2 separate regions of the Homo sapiens genome follow, and region 2 is linked to region 1. The links come from fine-mapping of genetic effects on gene expression. A gene starts in region 1. The other region holds a variant in brackets. All regions are shown on one strand. Distances are from middle to middle. Region 1 holds the start of RNF145 (ring finger protein 145). Region 2 overlaps LINC01932 (long intergenic non-protein coding RNA 1932).

The links. PIP is the estimated chance that this variant, and not a neighbour inherited with it, causes the effect.
Region 2: its variant is the best candidate, but not a certain one, in a credible set for the expression of RNF145 in whole blood (INTERVAL, PIP 0.61).

What each region holds. Positions count from the first base shown.
Region 1 is chr5:159,207,937-159,210,744 of GRCh38, forward strand. RNF145 (ring finger protein 145) reads right to left here and starts at 1,617. Exons shown (of 11, transcript NM_001199383.2): 1 at 1,295-1,617. LOC107986468 (a long non-coding RNA gene) reads left to right here and starts at 91. Exons shown (of 2, transcript XR_001742943.2): 1 at 91-744; 2 at 1,923-2,216. RefSeq lists enhancers at 1-383, 1-32, 123-172, 283-402, 1,990-2,089 and silencers at 1,300-1,489, 1,530-1,819.
Region 2 is chr5:159,241,403-159,244,210 of GRCh38, forward strand. All of the region lies in intron 2 of LINC01932 (long intergenic non-protein coding RNA 1932), which reads left to right. Among named protein-coding and RNA genes, the nearest start is that of LINC01932, 15 kb to the left of the region's middle. The variant C/G (reference allele first, on the strand shown) is at 1,458.

The sequences.
Region 1 (2,808 bases):
CATTCTTTTGGGCATGATTCAAGATTCAGTAAAACTGCACACTCCGTATTTTAAAAAATAAAAAGACACACAGTCCTCTCCTTCCCTTTCAGACTAGTTTCCTCTTTACTGCAGACTGCGACGCAAGGCCATCCACTAATCTTTGATGCCTGCTCACTGCACAGGCCCCTTCCTCTCTCCCCGCACCTCCTCCCACAACGCCTGCAGATCTCAGATGCGTTTGAACTACAGTAACCCCAACCCAGCTCGCGGCAAGCAGGCAGCGCAGCAGCAGTAGCAGCAGCAACCGGGCCGCCGCCGCCGCGGGGCTAAGAGATTACGTTCAGCAAAAACTCTTCCAGGAAAGAGGCTCGAGAGCTCCCCTCCTATCTCGCCAAGGGTGCTGACTCTGTCGCGCCACGCCACGTACCAAAAGGCTCGCGAAGAAAAACGCGGGCGAAGTTCAGCATCCCCGAACAGAAAGGGAACTCATTCCAGAAAGGGGGTTCACGGGTCTGAGGGTCCTTGGGTGGGGAAAGCAGTATTGGAGGGAGAAGACAGAAGGGATGGCAAGACAGAGGAAACCACGGGGACAAAAAGGAAGGGATGAGGAGCCCTCTTACTATAAAAGGGACTGACGGACGGGATGCAGAGCAATGGGCCCCCCTCGAAAAATGGACTGGCAGGCCCTTCCGCACCCCCAAACAACCTCGCACCACCTGAAAGCGGGGAGCTTGAGTTTGGGGCTGCGTAGATCAAAGCAGGGTAAGACGAAGGGAAAGAGGGAGGGGAGCTTGGAAGCAAAGTGAACAAAGAGGCAAAAGAGGCAAAGTTGGAAATGGAAACGAGAAAGGGAGCTGGAAAGGGGCCGCTCTGGAAGGGTCTTGAAAAAGGCCTAGAAATGGGATGCTGGGGAGGCAAAGGGGGACAGCCCCGAGGAAGGGCATCTCAGGAATGTAAGGGAGCGCTCCAGGCCCTGGGAAGAGGAAGGGATGGGAGGGCGGGGAGGCAGCCGAGGCCCGGGAGCTGGAACAGAGGGGGCTTTGCGCGGGGCCCAGGAGGGGAGAGCAGGGTCGGAGGGAGGCGACCACCGCGGGAAGAGCTAGAGGATGGGAGGGAGGGGTGCTGCGGCTGAAGAGGGGATGTGGACTCCTCCAATGCTAGGGAGAAGAGGGAGGTGAAGCGAGATAAAAGGAAAGGGGCGAACAGGGAGAAGAGGAAGGAGCCTGCGACGCGATGGGGGAGGGGAGGGAGGCCGTGGGAAGCGGCCGGGGGGCGCGGGGATGGGAAGGGGCCGGGCGGGCGGCGTGGTCACCTCAGGCTGCGGACTCCCTCCCTGGGGAGCGGCGCTGCCGGCGGGCGGGCTCCGCAACTCCCCGGCTCTCTCGCCCGCCCTCCCGTTCTCCTCGGGCGGCGGCGGGGGCCGGTACGGCACGGCTCACAGCGGCGGCTCTTCTGCGCCGAGCCTCGGATGTTGCTTCTGGGGAGGCGGAGGCAGCGGCAGCGGCAGCGGCCCGGCCCGTACGGTCACCATCGTCCGCGGCAGCAGGCGCTCGCGGGCCGAGCCCCTTAGCAGCCGGCGCCGGCGTCGGCGGCCATGGCCTCCTGCGTTTGCTCCTCCCGCCCCCGGCGCTCTGCGGCGGCCGCGGCCCGACTTCCGCACTCTGCGCCTGCGCGCGGCCCAGCCAGCGCGGCGCGCCCCTCCCGCGCGCGCCCGCGCTCACTCACAATCGCGCCCGCGGAGTGCTTTCCGCACCGCCTCCGGTGCGTGGGCGGGAGACATAAGCCTAGCCAAGCCCATACAGCCCGGCTCGGGTGGCTATGGAGAGGCGTACTGCAGAGACACCTGGACGCGCACTGTGACAGGCGCCATTCTGACACACGTGCTCTCTCACTCCCAAACACCACGGGCCGCAAGCGCTCACACCCACACTCACCTGCAGGGACCACGTGGGAGAATTTGAAGGGCTGATCCTGTCCCGGTGCATTCGCAGTAGCAATGATGCGAGAATTCGTTTTAACCTCGTCACTGACTGGACTAGACTGTAAACTCCTTGGCGTCTGGGATGGCTCAGCCGTGCCCAGCACCAAGTGCAGGCACTCAAACCCCTGTGGAGTAAGTGACTGGATGAATGAATGCATTGGAACTGTTCACTGAGTATCTGTAACAATTTTGATCCCATGGTTTGGTACAAAGAATTTTATTGCAGTATGAAATTAAATGGTGTTTGTGTGTTTGTCTTGTCTTGGTCTAAGGTTCAAAACAGGCTAATGTATGTTTTCCCCTCCCCAACGTAGAGGAGTTCCACTTTGTCTCTGTGCCAGTCTCTATCACAGAATGCGCAATCCTACCCTAATTTAAATGTCCACACCTTTTAGGGCAGGAACTGTTGCCCAGAATACATAGCCTGAAGCATATTGTGTGTTTACACAACGATAGTCTTCTGGGCTTGGCAAGACTTCTCATTCCCCATTTGTCTGCCACTCTGCCTCACCACGACCTTCTGCAACCCCCACTTCTATCTCCCCTGCCTTCCACCATCACCAAAACCCCTCCACTGTTTCTTGCTTTCTCTTTCGTTAGTTCCTGGGGAGCCAGTTGCTATGAGCACCTAGCCTGGCCTTAGATGTTGAAAGGGCCAGTGTACACAGAAGATACACACCCAGTGATGGGTAAGATGTTGCAACTATACTGGGTCATGCTGAAATTGTGAAGCCTCAACTTCTTCATGTGCAAGAGAAATTAATGTACTGTAATCTCGATGTCTGTGTTGAGGACCCTCCTTGTAAATTCAAGTCTCTGGCCTCTGCCCTTTGAATGGTAAACCC
Region 2 (2,808 bases), 33 kb after region 1:
TGCCTCACACCATATTCAAAATTCAATTTCATGTGGATCAAACACTGAAGTTCCAAATGTAAACCTTAAGACTTTCAAGAGAAAATATGAAAATTATTATTTTTTACATTTTGAGATGGAGTTTCACTCTTGTTGCCCAGGCTGCAGTGCAACAGCGCAATCTTGGCTCACTGCAACCTCCGCCTCCTGGTTTCAAGCGATTCTCCTGCCTCAGCCTCCCAAGTAGCTGGGATTACAGGCGTCTGCCACAACGTGAGCTAATTTTTTTGTATTTTTAGTAGAGACAAGGTTTCACCATGTTGGCCAGACTGGTCTTGAACTCCTCACCTCAGGTGATCTGCCCGCCTCAGCCTCCCAAAGTGTTGGGATTACAGGTGTGCGCCACCATGCCAGGCTGGAATATCTTTATGACCTTAGGTTAAGAAAGGTTTTCTTATACAAAGTACAAGAAGAACCACCTGTAAAGCAAAAGGTAATAAATCGTAAGAATTAACAACTTCTTTTCAATAAAAGACATGGTAAAAAGAATGAAAAGAGAAGCCATAACTGGGAGAAGATAGTCATATAATATATATAATGCACAAAAATTAGTATCTAGAGTCTATGAATAATTCCTACAAATCAATAAGGAAAAAGACAAATAACTCAGTAGAAAATGAGCAAAAGGCTCTTCACAGAAGAGGAAATCCAAATGCCGAGAAACACAGGAAACAAGATTCAGTCTCATTAGTAATCAGATAAATGCAAATTAAAACCACAATGAGAAACTGTTTAAATCCACCAGACTGGCATAAACGTAAAAATAAGACAATACCAAGTTTTGACAAGAATATAGAGCATTGTAAACTCACACACTCCTGGTGGGGTTGTGATTTGCTACAACAACTTTGAAAAGCAATTTGTCATCACCTAGTAAAGTCAAGTAAGCATGTGTCATATACCAAGCAATTCTACCCCTAATGTTAAACTAAAAAAAAATTCTTTGTACATGTGAAGCAAGAGACACAATAAGAAACTCCATTGCACAATAGCCCATAATTGTTCCTAACAGCAAAAAACATTGACACAATTGAAATTTCTATTGACATTAAAATGGATTACAAAACTGTCATCTATCCATATCATGGAATTTTATACAGCAGTGAAAATGAATACACTGCAACTACACATAATAAATGGATGAATTTCACAACACAGAGTGAAAGCCAAGTAGTAAGTCACAGAAAGTCACATATGATGTGACTTAATAGATGTAGTTTAAAAAACAGACAAAATCAAATAATAGTTTGTTTAGAGCTACCTACATGTGTGGTAGGGTCTAAGGAAAACATAGGCTTAACACAAAATTTAGGATAATAGCTACTTCTGGGTGGAGGTGAGCATGCGACGATAAACTATGATAAATATTTGAAGGAAAGGCTGGAGCTTATTTGAAGTTCATAATTAAGGGCCTGACT[C/G]AAGACTGTGGATTACAAAAGCCTTCCTGAGGAAGTGCACGTCAGCTGATACCTGAAGCGTGAGAAACAGTTTAGAGCAGTGCTTCTCAAACCTTAACAGAGACCCCCACCAATTGCTATGGGATAGAAAGGTATTTTCAGTCATAGTCAGATTTTTGATTATTAAAATAGAACTTTATCCAAATAAACATAAAGTACTGACTATTGGATTTTCTGCCTTCCTGGAGGAAAAACATCATTTTTTTTTCAAGCTTAGCCTCATTCGAATAGAATTTGAAAGATTTCACTCTGCTTTAATGGAAGCCAGACTTGAGAACAAATGATAATATATACAAAAACTGGTGGCCATAAGCAAAAAATCTGGAAATATCCGATTGTTTACTCTGGGTTAAAAGAGATTATGAGAGAGACCTGGTCTTCAGAAAATGCATTGAACATCCAAGTTCAAGTAGCTGCAACAAAAGCATCCTTTAAAATATATCAGATAAATTTTAAAAAAAACTTAAGGTGGCAATAAAAGATGGCCTGGATGAAAGCATATTTTTGTAAAAGCATAAATCTGCTTTCACAAGAAGCTAAGATAAAAAAGAGTGAGTAAAGTGAATAAACTGAAAAAAACTTGCAGAAGATGAAAGATTGAGCTGCTGTTCTTACATAGGAGAATGAGATCTGGGAATTGGAGATATTAACAATGCCTCAGACAATGGAGATTGTGTTGAGGATTAATAAAGTTTTTTATTGAGGTAAAATTCATTTAAAAACACTGTGAAGTATACAAACCAGTGGCTTTTAGTACATTCACAATGTTGTGCAGCCATCACTACTATCTAACTTCAGAAGATTTTTGTCACCCCAAAAAGAAACTCCATACACATTAAGCAGTCACTCCCAATTCCTGCCCCCACTTCCACCTGGTAACCACTAATCTATGTTTTGCCTCTATAGATTTGCCTATTCTAGACATTTTATATAAATTGAAACATTATGTGGCCTTTCGTGTGGGTTCTTTAACTTAGGATAGTGTTTTCAAGTTTCATCCATATTGTAGCAAGTATCAGCACTTCATTCCATTTTATGGCTGGATGACATTCCAATGTATGGGTCTGCCATATTTTGTTCATGCCATTTATCCACTCATGGATATGTAGCTTGTTTCCACTTTCTGCCCATTATAAACTATGCCTACTACGAACATTCATGTATAAGATTTTATTTGAACATATGGTTTGATTCTCTTGATATATTCCCAGGTGGGTAATTTCTGGGTCATATACTGTAGTAACTCTGTCTGAAACATTTTTAGGAAATGTTTTTTTTTTTTTTTTTTTTTTTTTTTTTTTTTACAGTGGCT